2 separate regions of the Homo sapiens genome follow, and region 1 is linked to region 2. Evidence: fine-mapped expression QTL. Tissue or cell type: whole blood. Region 2 holds a variant in brackets; the other region holds the start of a gene. All regions are shown on one strand. Distances are from middle to middle.

Region 1 (9,193 bases), 81 kb before region 2:
ACCCAAGGACTCTCCTGCTGTTTGAGACAATATAGTATAAAGGGGTCTTGATCCACAATATTGACAATATCAGACCTAGTGAGCAGGAAGTTGCAAGTGTCCCGGATCCCCTTATAAAGACACATGAGCAGTAAGTATAAAGTGAGAGATAAACCTACAAAGTTTGAAGGTCTTATTACTTTGGTAAAGTTTTAAAAGGCCAGTGGTCTGGGACATTCTGTCCAAGGTAAAGGATGAGTTACTGTACCTTGTACCTTCAACCTCTAAAAAAGAGGCACAGTATTTTGCAGGCCTCTTTAGTTTTCAAAGAGAGCATAAAGCGCACTAAAGAATACTGTTTTGACCCATTTAGTGGGTGACATGGAAAGCTGTCATTTTTGAGTGGGGCACACAGCAAGAAAGAGCTCTGTAGTTTTAGGTTGTAGTACCAGAGGCTTTGCTTCCTGGGCCATACATCTGGCTAGATCCCACAATACTAAAGGTCCCACAATGCTGTGGTATGTAAGGATACCTTCTGGAGTCTTAGGAAAGCCACAACAGGAGCCTCTCTCTGTAGATCCTTGCTGTCTGCAGCAGAGAATAATTCCCCATTCAAAAAACAGCTCTTGGCATGCTCTTGGGCTCTGGTAGAGAATGAATGCCTGGTCATGGGATATCAAGTGACTATGCAACTGGAAGTATCCACTATGAGCTGGTTATGTCAGACAAGTCAAGTCCTAAAGTCAGGCAGGCACTGCAGCAACCCATTAAATGATAAAAATGGAACAATGGGATCAGGCTCAAACAGGTCTTCAGGGCACAAATAAATTTCAAAAATAAGCAGCCCAGATGCCCATGTCACCTGTCTCATGCACCAATGTCTCTTTCAGCTCACACCTCATGTGGAATTCCCTAAGAAGAGCTGACAGAAAATGAAAACAAAATTCATGGATGAATCACAATATACTGGTAAAAGCTGTAAATGTAATGCTTCCAGACATGAGTTCCTCTCACAAGTGGCCCTGAAAAATGGTGATTAGGGGAAATCTTCCTGGCAGGCAGAGCTTTAAGCAGTATTCCTAGGCCCTCAATTTGGAGGACAATGCGGATTGGTTTCATCAAGGGCCTAGAAGGTACAAGATCAGAAGGTAAGAGAAAAAGAGTTCTGGGGAAGAAGCATGTGATTGGGCCTATGAGGGTGGTGTAGCAAACACACCCTAATCTGACCTCCAGTGAGTCACACCCTTGCATAATCCTCTTCCTTTGAGTGGGAGTGGGGTCTGTAACTTGCTTCTAAATAGAGCAAAGGTGACAGAATGTCTGTCTCATGAATATGCTACATGGTATAAGACTCCATTTTAGGGGACTGGAGGGAGACTTTCTGTTGGCTTGGAAGAAGTAAGCTGCCATGTTGTGAGAGGACCACGTGATGAGGAAGAGTGGGTGGCATGTGAGTGCAGCCCCTGCCAACAGCTGGTAAGAAAACAGTGACCTCAGTCCTACAACCACAAAACGATGATGCTTGCCAACAATGTGAATCAGCTTGGGAGTGGATTCTTCCCTAGTCAAGTCTCCAGATGGAAGCACATCTCAGCCAACACCAGATTGCAGCCTTGTAAAACCCTGAGCAGAGGACCCAGGTGAGTGATGCCAGGGCTCCTGGCCATGGAAACCGTGCGATCACAAATGTGTGTTGTTTTAAGCTGCTAAATTTGCAGTAATTTGCTATGCAGCATAGAAAACTAATGTAAGTGGATGTAAAATACATAGATATTTGTATCTCAGAAAGCATCCACCTCAGAAGAGGCACTGAAAAAACCAGGTGGACAGGATAATTTATCCAGTAGACATGAGCCAATCTTTGCTTCTGGTCACCTCAATGCTTGCATAATGGGTTTGTAAATGAAGTAGGCATGGTGGCAGGGATGAAGGTGATGAAGGATAGGCATGGGCTCATATCAAGGCCTCCTTTCACCAGGCTGGTTTAGCTACACTACTGCTGCTGAATGTTCTACCTGTTCATGGCAGAGACCTGTTCATATTAAGCCCTCAATACGGTACAACCCCTTTAGGAGACAAAACATTCATTCAGTGACAAATTGATTACAAATTGAGACCTGTTCATATTGAGCCCTCAATATGGTACAACCCCTTTAGGAGACAAAACATTCATTCAGTGACAAATTGATTACACAGGACCCCTTCACCTTTAAAGGGGCAAGTGACAAATGCTCCTAATATGGGCTTGTTTTTCCTACCTGCAGTGCCTTGGCCAGCACCACTACCTAAAGGTTTAGAGTATGTCTCATTTATCTTCATGAGATCTCATATACCATTGCCTTGGATCAGAGGACCCTTTTTACAATACCACTTTACCTAGAAGCTACTGGTTTGACAGAATGTTGGAATGGTCTCTTAAAGGCACAGCTAAGGCGCTAGCTTGGGATTGTGTGGGATTGAGACAATGTACTTCAAGATGAGGAACATGCTTTGAATCAAGGGCTGGAAGTAGGAGTGACCCCTCTCACTAATACTCTCAGTGATTGACTTGGGAAATTTGCACCTCACTTCTGGACAAGAGGTCCTGGGTCTGGTGGAGGGGAGAGATGGTTCTATCAGGGGACCCAGTAAAGGTTTCATTAAATCTTAAAACTACTGCTGCCACCTGGTCATTTTTGACTCCAAAAGCTCATAAGGAGTTATTGCACTGGCAGATGGAGATAGGGTTGCTGCTATGTGATTGGATGAGATTGGGGGTGCTCAGGGTGGTATGGCCATAAACTGCTAGATAAGTGGGATAGGGGATGCATTTCTTGAACTCAGGGGATTCTCTGAGACAGCTCTTGATGCTTTCATGTCCAGTGAATGGGTAATTGCAGCAACCAAAACCTTACAATGACACAGTAACCAAGGGCTTATGCTCCTCAGGGATGAAAGCTTGTTATCCTACTGGGCAAACACAGACCAGCAGAAGTGTTGGCCAAGAGTAAGGAAAATCTAGAATGATGTTAGAGGAAGGAGATGATCAATTAGAGACCTCAGATTAATTGCAGTAGTGGATTCTGCAGCTTGTCCCATTAATCTTTTTTTTTGTAAGTCCTTTTCTTTTAAAAATTGAGACTAGCCACTACCTTAAAGAATTAGGGTGGCATGGTGTGAACTTGATGTGGAGGAAGAATGGATACGAGTGCTGCAAAGGGTGGAATGTAGCAGCTGCTATTAGTGCCTCCCCCATATCCACTTGACATACACCTTTTCTATGCACGACCAGCCCAACTTCCAAAATGTTAGCATGTGCGACTTTTTGCCTAAGGGCTTTCTCTGGCTGCCAGAACCTACTCTCCCTGAACACAGGGTAGACTGGAAGTTCTAGGGCATCAATGTTCTGCCCTATCAGGCTTCATCCAATAACTGATGGAAGTTGGCGAATAAATACTCCAGCTTCCTTGCCCCTCAAGAGGGGATAACTGAGACATGCCTCCCAGTATTCCCTAGTGAATTCAGCCCACAGAGAAATTTCTCTGGTAATATTTCCTTTATTAGTTTTCTTCCCCTCCCTGCTGCTGTTTCCTGGGATTACGTCTCATATAAACAACCTGCCTTCAAAGTTTTGTCTTAGGATCTGATTCCGGGTGAAATAAACTAAGATAAAGTTAAAATGGAAGTGCTAAACTATAATAATTGAAAACTAGAATCCTTCAGGTATTTTAAGAGTTGCTATCCTAGATAAAAACACTGTGCAAACATTTAACTAATATTCAGAAGAGTTGGTTTCATTATGAAACAGAACACAGCTAACTATTTTTCCCAGTTAAAAGATCCAAGTCCAAAATGCCAGAACGGACACGGCCATCCTTCTAGTTCTTAATAAAAGGAGTACCAAACTACAGGGGGAAAGAAGCGCAAAATAACATAGACTTAAGTATTTCTTTACAATTTTTGTAATTTCTCAAATTTTAATTTACAATATGATCTTTGGTATTACATGAATGTTATCTGGGTATGCTATAATTCTATAATTTTTTTTTAAAGTTTCCTTACACTTAGCAGTTGAGAAGCCCTCTAGCAGAGGTTTCTGAGGTTTAGAGGTTTCCTGGGAAACCTAGAATTGCCGCCTAAGATAGGATAGCTGCCTCTCCCCTACATCTTATACTCTTGCAGTAGGTGTTCAGTAAATATTTGTGGAATAAATACTTCAGTCGTTGAAAGGAGACGTGGTTTTAAAAAGTGGATTTACAAAGAGACCGTTTTGCAAGAAAAGAAGCTGGTCTGGGGGTCCCCGCAGGAGGCGGGGTTCCGTGCAACAGATACCAAGATGCCTCCAGGGCGGACCACGACCCAGCGGGCCGCCGGAAGGCTCCTTACCTGGCCGCAGCCGGACCCTCCTCAGGGAAGCAACTGCCTCCAGGGACTCCGCGGGGCTGTCGGGCGGTTGCCGGGGAGACCTCTGGCCGCCACGCACCTGCTGCTTGGTGGGGCGGGGCCTCGAGAGGCGGGGCTGTAGTTCTTTGTCATTTCTTTTCCAATTCGAAATAGTCACTTTTGTACCTAATTTGGCATTTATAATTATAATACACTCATTTTCACAACTATGGAAGAGAGGGTACGCGCATGCCCATTTATGTCGCACACATGAAATGAAGAAACCTCATTTCAAGCGCGGCTCCGCCACACTGCGCTAGTCTCTGTCGACAACTTCAAGTGGCTAGCCTCACGCACAAACGTGTGGCAAAGCCACACTTTCCAGCTTTAGGTGATTTTAAAACAATTTCTTGGGCCACACAGCGTAGGTACAACATGGATTAGAGGTGAGGGGAAAACTGACACTCAGTGAAGGACCGTCAGAGGGCCGGCTTCCAGGAAAATGGGCCGCAGCAGGCAGGGAAAACACAAGGATCTATCCTGCAACTCGGAGAACCCTTTTCAAAAGAAGCTACCCAATCCCAAACCTTCCGCTTTTTTCCAAAGAGAGGGAGGAGATAAATAGACTCAATTAATCCGTCGACTTTTTCTCCGCCCATGTTTTCCTCCAATCCTTACCAAAGATGGTGCCCTTCGCTTCCTCTCTCGGCAGCACGCAGGTCCCGGGAGCCTCTACCCGACCTCTCTATGATACGTCCTCCAGCCCCGCTCCCGACGTGAGGGGCGGGGCTTGCCTGGAGGCGGGGCGCAGGGATCCGGAAACACCTGATCATCTATAGGTTTAGTGCCTAATGGGTGTTGTTCCTGGCTGGACTTGATGTCCAGGGCCTGAGGGGTTTTCTCGCCGAGTCTCCTGGGGCGGTCCGGAGGCTCGTGCCCTGTTGTGGGGCCCCCATTTGCCGCCGCCATGCCCACGGCCGCCGCCCCCATCATCAGCTCGGTCCAGAAGCTGGTTCTGTATGAGACTAGAGCTGTGAGTACCCCCTCGCGGCGGGGCGCAGGCGGGAGGATGGATGTCTGCCGGTGGGTGTGGGGCCGTAGGACAGAGGCTGTACTCTGCCTCCTCCTCCTTCCTCTCCAGTTCCCAAATCCCTGTCAAACACAGCCTTGGGGTAAGCTAGCTCCCTTGAGCTGTGCCTGGGCGCCTTTCCCCTATTTTGGTACCCTGGACATTGCAGCATTTGCAGGTCCACTTACAAGCCATGGCTGGAACACGCTGGAAACAGGTGCTTGTGGTACCTCAGGAACTGTTCATGAGGTTCTCTGTACGAGTTACTGGATTCTTTTCAGCTTTCAGAAAGTCTGTTAAAGTTCTAGAGTTCACAAGTTACAGTACAGGCAGGGGTATGAAAAAAATTTGAACTATGACTTGTAACTTATTTTTTCCTATTCCATGGTATACCATCACTGCGATTCATGTGAATTACACTTCTATTGGTGAACTTTTTGGTTCTCTTTTTTTCTTATTTGAAAGGAAAGGAAAACTTACTTTGTTTAAAGACAGATAATTTGTTTGGATAACATCTTGCTTTTCACTTGACTTTTTTCAACATAACATTTACTTTTAAAATTTTATTACTTTGAATGGCCATGTAAATAGTGAATAAGCAGATCAGTTTGTATTTCGATTACCAGTTCCTCAATTAAGGGAGAATGGTGTTTATATAACTTCATACTTGGTCCTTTCTGTGGGTGGAAAGCAAAGTTGGTACAGTATAGCTCTTCTAAATTGGGGTGCCACAGTGATATTAGGGACTGTGTTTAATATTACCCATTTCATGCTAACAAGATTGCATATGCCAGATATTTTCATAATGCTCTTCACTATGTTATAGAGTGCTTTATAAACTGTTTCTCTGAAACTTGGGTTGTCTCCATTAGAGGAGTATGAGAAGGCATTTAACAGTTTCTCAGTTATAACGTAGTCCTAATAGCACAATAACCTCTCCCTCAGGTTAACATGAGTAGAGAATTGTGGACCTTAAATTAATTTTGCTGACAACTTTGATTAGATCTAGAGCAGAAAATGACATTATCAAATATACTGTATTTGCAAGTATTTTCAGTTCTCTAATGAGACCCATAAAGAAGTATCATTTGTCATTGAAATGAAACCTATTTTCTGTAAAATATGCTGCTAAATTTCCCTCATTAGAAACATAAATAACTTTTTTTTTTTTCCCTTTGAGACAGAGTCTTGCTCTGTCACCCAGGCCGGAGTGCAGTGGTGCTATCTCGGCTCACTCACTGCAACCTCTGCTTCCCAGGTTCAAGAAGTTCTCGCACCCCAGCCTCCCAAGTAGCTAGGATTACAGGAATGTGACACCATGACCGGCTAATTCTTGTGTTTTTAATAAAAGACAGGGATTCTCCATGTTGGCCAGGCTGGTCTAAAACTCCTGGCTTCAGCCTCCCAAAGTGTTGGGATTACAGGCATGAGCCACCGCATCTGGCCGTAAATAAAACACAAATTTCAGCCCATTAAAAAGCTGATCACTCATGAGGACTGCGTGAGATATTAGTGTTCAGAAAGCACAATTCATATTATAGGGCTCTTCTGCTCAGAAATCTTCAGTGGTCCCAATTCTGAAGCAAGTAAACTCTGAATCCCTTAGTTGGCATTCAAAGCCATGTATTATTTGTCCTCAACTTGTCTATCTAGTTTTACATCTAATTTAATATCAATTAATGAAACATTTATTGAGGATCAACCATGTGCCTTCATATGCCTTATTCTGCAGTAAAACTGTATTGCTTTCAGTTCCCTATATCTGCCCTGTGTTTTTCTGCTGTTCTCTATTCTCTTAATGCCACACCCCCTCTTTTCCTGTCAAAACCTTGCTGATCCTCACAGCACATATCTGGTCATGCCTTGCAAACAGTAGTCTCTCAATAGATGTGGATTAAGGAGCTCTAACACAAAGAGATAGAGGTGTGTTCCAGAACTCAGCTGTGACCCCTCTCAACTGCCTAAGTAATGGAAACTAACTCTGGCCAGCTTAGAGACAAAAGGTAAATTTATCAGAGGGATGCTAGGGGAGCCATTGCATGGTATCCAGCTTCTGGAAAAGCAGGAAAGAGATAACAGGTTTGAGAACCCTCTCAGAGTACTGCCAAAAACAGTGTAGGTGCTGGGAGAAAAAATCTGATCGACTCAACTATGATTGGTTATCATCCCCTGAGTGGACAAATCATTCATGGCCAGGGGGGGTCTGGCAGGAATGATTTAGCTGTGGAATCAGGATCCTCTTTGTTTCAGCAAATGGTTGGGGCTGGGCAACCACCCTTGAAAATGTCTGCTGCATTGAATCACTGAGTCTCGGTTTTGTTAAATAATTTTTTTTTTTTGGTTAAAGATATAAGCAGAAAGGTTTTGTTTTGTTTTGTTTTGTTTTTACTAATAAGCTCAAAGTATAAATAAATAAGAAAAAGGCATAAAATTACAGGCAACTGGATAAATGCTATGAATTAAAAAAACAAAAACTGTAGTAGGTTGTAATAATGAGGATAATAGCTCAAAATATTCTACATATATTTTATTATTTAATCCTCATAAGACCTCTAAGAGATCATGCTGTTAATTCTACTACTATATATATTATTTAGTAAAGAAAAAAAATGAGGCAAAGATAATTTAAGGCAGTTACTTAACCCATTTATGCCAGAGGTTGCAAATTTTTTTGTGTGAAAAATCAGACCTTTGCGATGACCTTGAGCAGTAGGATATAAATAACTCCCACAAGCTTAGCGTTCCAATAACGGAACACTAGGCATAAGGTGTGGTGCAGGTGCTAAGAATGTATACTGGGGAAAGGACAGTCTCTTCAATAAATGGTGTTGAGAAAACTGGATATCCATGTGCAGAATGAAATAAGGCCCTTCTCTCTTGCCATATCCACAGATCAACTTAAAATGGATTAAAGGCTTAAGTGCAAGACCCAAAACTGTAAAACTACCAGAAGAAAACATAGGGGAAATGCTTCAGGATATTGGTCTAGGCAAAGATTTTATGAGTAAGACTTTAAAAGCACAGGGAACAAACCCAAAAATAGACAAATGGGACTATATCAAGCTGAATAGCTTCTGCACAGCAAAAGAAACAATCAACAGAGTGAAGAGGCAACCTATAGAATGGAGAAAATATTTGCAAACTCTTCATCCAAGAAGGGACTAATATCCAGAATATATGAGGAATTCAACAACTCAACAGCAAATACCCCCAGATAATCCAATTAAAAATGGGCAAGGATCTGAGTAGACATTTCTCAAAAGAAGATATACAAATGGCCAACAGGTATATGAAAAATTACTCAAGGTCACTAATTATCAGGGAAATGCAAATTAAAACCACAGTGAGATATCATGTCACCTCAGTTAAAATGGCTATTTTCAAAAGGACAAAAATTATCAAATGCTGGTGAGGATATGGAGAAAGGGAATTCTTATATAGTATTGGTGGTAATGTAAATTAGTATAGCCATTATAGAAAACAGTATGGAGGTTCCTCAAAAAACTAAAAATCCGGCAGTCCCACTACTGGGTGTGTATATGAGGGGATTTCAAAAAGTTCATGGGAAAATGGAATTAAAAGATAAAAATAACAAATGTAAACTTTATTTCTCAAGCTAACTTCCGTCAAGGTCAAGACATTTTTGTAACTAATGATACCAGCCATTTAATTCATCCACAAAGAACCGAGGGTCCTGGGAATTTAACCATATTGGTGCAGTCTTTTTTACTCTGTTAACTAAAGAAAAATGGGTGCCCTTTAAGGATTCTTTTTAAGATGAGG
Region 2 (8,000 bases):
GACTTGTGAATACTACATGTAACAGGGTGTTGAAATGGTGCTTTTCCTGCCTCCATTCTGATGGAATTGCCAATACAATAGGTATCACAGACCAAAGTGATTGTGAGACAAACCCCCATGCACAGAATTTATGAAGGAAGTGCTCAGTGATTGATTTCATGAGTCTTCAGCTCTTGTACCAGATTAAGGATAGAAAAGTTTACATAATATGGAGAAGATTAGTAAAGAGGTCCTTGGGGCTGGGCGTGGTGGCTCATGCCTGTAATCCCAGCACTTTGGGAGGCCGAGGTGGGCGGATCACGAGGTCAGGAGATCAAGACCGTCCTGGCTAACATGGTGAAACCCCGTCTCTACTAAAAAAATTACAAAAATTAGCCAGGCGTGGTGATGGGGGCCTGTAGTCCCAGCTACGCGGGAGGCTGAGGCTGGAGAATGGTGTGAACTCCGGAGGCAGAGCTTGCAGCGAGCCGAGATCGCGCCACTGCACTCCAGCCTGGGCGACAGAGCAAGACTCCATCTCGGAAAGAAAAAAAAAAGGTCCTTAGGAGTGAACTATTGCCTGCAATAACACCCACCCTCAGTGAAAAGAGAGTGGGCTTCAACAGGACTCTGGGTGAGCTTGACATGGTATCCTGCTGTTGAAGAGACGCAGCATGTAGGCCTTGGACTGTTGCACAGCAGATCTGAAGCAGAGGGATGGGCTGAGGAGAGTGTGCCACATTGGGAATTGTCTGCATTCCTCCAGTTGGGTGGGCCAAAGGATACTTGAGTGTTGACTGGTAACCGGATGTGGGCCTCGTGGAGGAGGGTGCCAGCATGGGGTTGGCCTGGGTCCTGGCCAGTAAGGCCCCTGGAAGGACAGAGAGACCTTAGCAGCAAGATCCAGGAGGTAAACACTGGATACCTAAGGAGCCAAGGAAGGAATTATAAGAAACTGCCTGATAAAAGGGAATTGTAAGAGAGTCCCCAGTGCTGGCAGCTTCAGAAGCATCTGGGAAAGCATCCATCAGAGTCAGCTGTCCACATTTTCTAGGCCCAGAGAGTTTGCAAAGCTGGTCTGTTATGCTCCTGTCCAACTGTATTAGTTTTCTGCGCTGTGTAACAAATGACTGTAAATGTAGCAGCTTAAAACAGTACACATGCATTATCTCACAATTTCTGTGCATCAGAAATTTATGCACAACTTAACTGGGTCCCCTGCTTAGGGTCTCTCAAGGCTGCCATTGAGAAAGAACCACTTCCCAGCCCACGTGCTGGCAGAATTCAGTTCCTTGTGGCTGTAGGACTCATAGCAGCGTGCTTCTTCACAGCTGACAATAGGATGAGTGTGCTGGCAAGACTGAGTCTTACAAATGTAATGTAATAATGGGAGTGACATCCCGTCATCTTTGCCATATTTCTTTGGTCAGGAGCAAATCATAGGTGCCCCTGCCCACAAACACGGGGGAAATCCACATCCATTTCCTAGGGCTGCTGTATCAAAACAGCACAAACCGGTGGCTCAAAACAATAGAAATGTATTTTCTTGCAGTTCGGGAGGCTAGGAGTCTGAAATCTAAGTGTTGACAGGGCCATGCTCCCTCTGAAAACCCAGAGAGGAGAATCCTCATCGGCTACTTCTGTCATGTGCTAATACGTACATATCCCTCAGGGTGTATATCACCATGAAAAAGGGCATCTGTTCTTTTGCCCTCTCCTGTGGTCGTTGTCCCTGTAATAGGGGTCATTATTGACACTTAAGGATCAAGTAATGTGCTTTTTTTTTTTTTTGAGAGGGAGTCTCGCTCTGTCTACAGGCTGGAGTGCAGTGGCTCAAACTCGGCTCACTGCAAACTCCGCCTCCCGGGTTCAAGCGATTCTCCTGCCTCAGCCTCCGGAGTGTAATGTGCTTTTTAATAAGACTAGAGGACGGACAGAATGACTGTGTAGCTGTCCATGTTTAAAAAAGAAAGGAGTAATATAAAAGATAAAGATATTCTGAGAAAATGATGTGCACAAATGGAAAGGTAAGGCAAAATTATGCACAACTGAAAGAGGAACTACCGTGAAAGGAATGATTTTATGAATAATGTGGCTAAAACAGGCTTCTTTATTTTAAGAAGCATGATATCATTGGGGTGTACAACTTATTTTTAAATTACAATGGGTATTATATAATGGTGGCAATATAGAAGAATTTTCTTTAAACCACTCAAGACAACTTTGCAAAACTTAATCAATCTTTTCATGTTATGCCTCTGGGCTAGGCAGGAACATACTGATAAACTAGATTAAAAAAAAAAAAAAGCGCTGGGCACAGTGGCTCACACTTGTAATCCTGCACTTTGGGAGACCAAGACAGGAGGGCTGCTTGGCCCAGGAGTTTGAGACCAGCCTGGGCAACATAGTGAGATCCCATCTCTACAACAAATACAAAAATTAACCAGGCATGGTAGTGCACACCTGTAGTCCCAGCTATGTGAGAGCCTAAGGGCACAGGATCCCCTGAGCCCAGGAGTTCGAGGCTGCAGTGAACTATGATCATTCCATTGTACTCTAGCCTGGGTGACAGAGTGAGACTGTCTCTCAAAAAACAAGCAAACAAAAGCAACCAGAATAGTGAAATTAGGTTGTTAGGAATTTTACCCTTGGTTTATGTGGATGGACTGATGCTATGGGGTCAACTCACCTGACCCTTTTTTCTATTCATTTTAAAAACTGTTCTTGAGGCTTCACATGCTAGCATGCATGTTGGTCTAGGAAGCACCTTTTAGTTTTTAATATAACTAGTTACATAGGGAGTTGGAGGATGCTTTACAGGGAAAGCATAGGTATCTCTTCAGATGTTAGGGAGAGCTTTTAATTCCCTTAAGGGCCTTGCTAAGCTCTTTCTATTTTTTTTTAAATGCAAATTTTTAAGCCTGGATTTTCTTGCTGGAGCTTGTTGAATTTAAATCCTATTATAAAAAAAAGATAAGAAACCTACAGCAGTTAATAATAGATCTGCTGTATATACGTGTGTGTGTGTGTATATATATGCCTAACATAAATATGTACACCCACATGCGTGTGCATAATTTGAATGTAGTGAATGTGTGTATGCATGCATGGAGGGGAATCATGTTCTCAACAGGGATCTAAAGAGAAAAGCTCCCAAGGTGTGTTAGGTTGTTTTTGCGTTGCTATAAAGAAATACCTGAGACTGAGTAATTTCATAAAGAAGAGAGGTTGAATTGGCCCATGATTTTGCAGGTTGTACAGGAAACATCGTGCCATTATCTTCTCAGTTTCTAGGTGGGGCCTCAGGGAACTTTTAATCCTGGCAGAAGAAGGGGGAGCAGGTGTCTCACATGGCAAGGGGTGAGGGGAAGGAGGTGCCACACACTTTTAAACAACCAGATCTCTTGAGAACTCACTATCGCAAGGAGTGCATCAACCCAAACACCTTCCGCCAGACTCCATCTCCAAAATTGTGGATTACATTTCAACACCAGAGTTCGGCAGAGACAAATATCCAAACGATATCACAGGGTCAGGGTTTCAAAGCTTATCACGTGTGGAAGACAGTGATCCCAGAAGATGGTGCTGAGGTGGCTTCACCTGGCATTATGATAGTACTCTAAAGGACTGCCAGCAGTTTCTTCCCCTTTCTGCTCACTGCTGAAAGAGGGACATCAAAGGGAACATGCTGAGAACATTTTAATTTATCAAGAATAGTGAGATAGCCTTCTGAGGTTATCCTTCAAACAGCAGATTGTGAGTGAATAAGCTGTATTTGGCAATAGCAGAAATAAAACAGTTGGAAAAATGTTTTGTTTTAATAACGTTTGTTTTAATACCCTTGGTAACTTTTGTTAAAGCCCAACTCTTCACCTCTTCTGCAACCAAAGCAGTTGTACATGGCAAGAGAAAAGTTTGTAATTTATTACTCTTAAACAGACTACAGTTCTCCAAAGGACAACGGACTGTCCTGTGACATTTCCATAGTAAGTTCATTCTTCCCCTCTCCAAAATGACTATTTCATAACTTGTCCTCTCTCCTTAAAACTACAACACCTCAGTCTCATCTGATGACCTTGCTTCGTGCTTCAGTGAGAAAATAAGTTATTGAAAGGGAACTTCCTCTAATTCTTTTTTTTTTTTTTTTTTTTTTTTTGAGACAGAGTCTCGCTCTGTGGCCCAGGCTGGAGTGCAGTGGCACTATCTCGGCTCACTGCAAGCTCCGCCTCCTGGGTTCATGCCATTCCCCTGCCTCAGCCTCCCGAGTAGCTGGGACTACAGGTGCCTGCCACCGCGCCCGGCTAATTTTTTGTATTTTTAGTAGAGACGGGGTTTCACCATGTTAGCCAGGACTTCCTCTAATTCT[C/A]CCATCAAATGCAGAGGGCGTCCTTTTCTGCACCCATAGTTTCTACCCTATATTGTATTACAATGCTTGTGGTGGCCCTGCTCCATCTTAAGTGAAACCTTGCCTTTTTCTTTGAATCCCATGCCTTCTTGTGTTCCCTAACTATATGCTTGTTGCTGTACATCATCAGTTTCTCTGTCTCTAATGCATCATTGCCATTAACATAAAAGCATACCTTAGCATTTTCCATCCACCCTTTCCAGCTATTCCTAATCCCACATGCCCCTCCAGCCACAGTCCTATTTTTCTGCTCTCATGAGCAAAACCTCTTGAAAGGGTTGTCTCCACTGTGTTCTCTCTACCTGCTCCACTTGGCAACTGCCCTGCCATGACACCGAAACTGTACTTGTCCAGGTTACCAACAATTCCCACATTGCCAAATCTAATGTTTACTCTTCTGACTCCATCTTACTCAACCTTTCAACAACTTTCATCACAGTTGACCACTTCCTCTTTCTTAAACTTCACTTTGTGAGATCTCTCAGTGGGATATTGAGATCTCTGTCAATAGGAGAGAGTCTCAGTCTCCTATTGACTTCCCCTGCTGTGTTTCTAAACCTTTCTCTTTTTCCAGTTTTGTCCTAGGGATATCACATTCAGCTTTTGACTACCATGCATTTGACACTCAGATTTTTAGCTCTAACTTTAACTTCTCATGAACTCCAGACTCATTTATCTAAATGTCTACCTAGCATCTCTGCTGGGATATTGAATTAGTTTTTTTGTTTTTTGTTTTTTGAGATGGAGTTTTGCTCTCGTTGCCCAGACTGGAGTGCAATGGCGCAATCTCGGCTCACCACAACCTCTGCTTCCTGGGTTCAAGAGACTCCCCTGCCTCAGCCTTCCGAGTAGCTGGCATTACAAGCATGTGCCACCACCTGGCTGATTTTTATTTTTAGTAGAGACAGGGTTTCTCCATGTTGGTCAGGCTGGTCTTGAACTCCCGACCTCAGGTGATCTGCCCGCCTCAGCCTCCCAAAGTGTTAGGATTACAGGTGTGAGCCACCATGCCTGGCCATTGAATTAGTTTTTTATCATTGCCATGACAAATTACTACAAACTCAGTGGTTTAAAACAATACCCATTATCTTAGAGTTTCTGAGGATCAGAAGTCTATGGACACAGCATTACTGAGCTGTATTCTCTGCTTAGGTTCTCACAAGACTAGAGTAAAAATGATGTCACATGACGTTAAAATGAAGTCAAAATGTCAGCTGACCTGGGCTTTTACCTGGAGGCTTCCTGGCTCATTCTCATTGTTGGCAGAATTCCATGCAGCTATTGGACTGATGTCCCATGTCCTTGCTGGCAGTTGGCTGGGGGCCACTGTCAGTTCCTAGAGGCTGCTGCATTTCTTGGCTTGTGGCCTGCTCTATTTTAAAGCCTACCACAGTGCACCAAATACATCTTGTGCTTCAAATCTCTCTGCCTTCCCCTCCTGCCTTCCTCTTCAGCCTCTAAAGGATTAATGTGATTACAGTGGACCCAACCAGATGATTTAGGATTTTTCTATCTTGCAGTTGATGATGAGTAACCTTAATTACATCTGCAAAGTCCTTTTTACCATGTAGTAGAAAATATTCATGGTATGATACTAGGGAGCAAAGGTCTTGGGGGCCAAATTTCTTCCTACCACAGAAATCTAACAAAATCACAAACTTACCATTTCTGAGACAGAAACTCTTGACTCTGTCTCAAGTCCGTTTCTCTACTTGTTTTTTCTACTTCAATACCCATTGATCAATTCAGAAAACCTAGGAATTCTCCCTGCATTATTTCTTTTCCTCATCACTGTTCCCCAATCCCATCTGTCAACAAATCTTGTTGGTTATACCTCCAAAATAATATCTTCTGTGTTTCATCCCTACTTCTGACACGCTAGTCCACACAGCCACGGCCATCCACTGTTATCTGGATGGCTGCAGGGGTTTGCTATTCTTGTTGTTTGTTTGTTTGAGTGAAGTCTTACCCTGCCACCCAGATTGGAGTGCAGTGGTGCTATCACAGCTTACTGCAGCCTTGACTTCCCAGACTCAAGTGATTTTCCCACCTCAGCCTCCTGAGTAGCTGGGACCACACTCGTCTAATTTTTATTTATTTATTTATTTATTTTTTCTGTAGAGATAGGGTCTCCCTATGTTGCCCAGGCTGGTTCCTAACTCCTGGGCTCAAGTGATCCTCCCTCTTTCCAGCCTTCCAAGTAGCTGGGACTATAGGCGTGTGCCACCATGCCCAGCTCATATTTTTTATTATTTTTGTAGAGACAGAATCTCCCTGTGTTCCCCAGGCTGGTCTCAATCTTGTGAGCTCAAGCGATCTGCCTGCCTAGGCCTCCCAAAGTGCTGGGATTACAGGCATGAGCCTCCATGCCTGGCCATTTTTTTCAACTACTAAAGTATATATGTTAATTATACAAAGTACAGAATGGCTCACAAATAAATCATATGATCCCCACCTTCCAGAGATAGCCACTTGTATATTTAGGGGAACATGATCCTTCTGGTTTTACTATACCTGTAATTTATAATATGCTTTTGCTCTTTTAGATAATGTAATGAATCTTTATAACCTTAAATATTCTTCTATAACATGATTTTTAGTAGCCCTATGGTACTCTATCTTTGAGAAGCATCATAATTTAGTTATTTGCTTTGTGCATTTAGAGTTGTTCTAAACAAACATCTTTGAACATATACCTTTTTGCATATTTTGATCTTATGAAAAGTTCAGAAGCAAATTTATTAGGTCAGAGGGTAAAAATAATTTTTAGGGCTTAAAATATCTATCTATATATATTATATAGATATATATTTGCCAAATTGCCTTTCAGAAAGGATGTAAACAGTTAATGTTCCCCTTGGCAGAGTATGGGAGTGCCTATTTTGAAATGTATTTGCCAACTTAACAGACAGAAAATGGTATGTTGTTCTAATTTGCAGTATTTGATAACTAGCGAAGTTGGATTTTTATATATCCATTGGCTGTTTCTGTTTCTTTTGAAAATTGTGTGTACCTGTTTTTCTATTAGGGGTTAATCTGTGTCTTTCCTACATTTAGTTGGTATTTATTTCAATGTCTGATGTGAGGTAGGGGTCTAACATCATTGTCCCTTCCACCCCCACCCCAATACTATTGTACTGTTTATTGAATAATACTTCCTTTCATTGCTGATTTCAGAGGACACTGTATCATAAACTTAATATTAGAATAAGAGCTATTTCAGTTCAAAAATGAATTTTTTTCTCTAATTAAAAAGAATTGTTATATTTAAACCTGATCTATTTAAATGTAGTCAGTAGTAAAATTGGCTAATGTTTAACCTGTTTGAATGGTATTTGGTGCATATTCTTTCTTCCCTTCAAGCACAATTAAACATAAAAGTGGCTAATCATTTCGCCCTCTTGTTATCCACAACCACAGAGAGCCTACCAGTTTTAAACCCTTGTTCATATCCAGAGTACCACCATCTTCCTGGAGGTGATTGTTTTATTTGCAGTCAGAAGTAGCCAGGAGAAGATCCTTGGGCTCATTAGGGCTGGCCTTATATCTCAAGCTTAGTAAGTGACCGTAAACATCATACATGTATTTTCAGTTGCAGCAGCAGTACTTCCAAAAA

The links. PIP is the estimated chance that this variant, and not a neighbour inherited with it, causes the effect.
Region 1: FIG4 starts here. The variant in region 2 is fine-mapped to the expression of FIG4 in whole blood (TOPMed, PIP 0.99).

Annotation. Positions count from the first base shown.
Region 1 is chr6:109,686,128-109,695,320 of GRCh38, forward strand. FIG4 (FIG4 phosphoinositide 5-phosphatase) reads left to right here and starts at 5,169. Exons shown (of 23, transcript NM_014845.6): 1 at 5,169-5,374. The coding sequence starts at 5,309. AK9 (adenylate kinase 9) reads right to left here and starts at 5,075. Exons shown (of 41, transcript NM_001145128.3): 1 at 5,020-5,075. RefSeq lists a silencer at 886-1,086 and an enhancer at 4,653-5,122.
Region 2 is chr6:109,767,352-109,775,351 of GRCh38, forward strand. The region is part of intron 15 of FIG4 (FIG4 phosphoinositide 5-phosphatase); the gene reads left to right. Among named protein-coding and RNA genes, the nearest start is that of FIG4, 80 kb to the left of the region's middle. The variant C/A (reference allele first, on the strand shown) is at 4,346.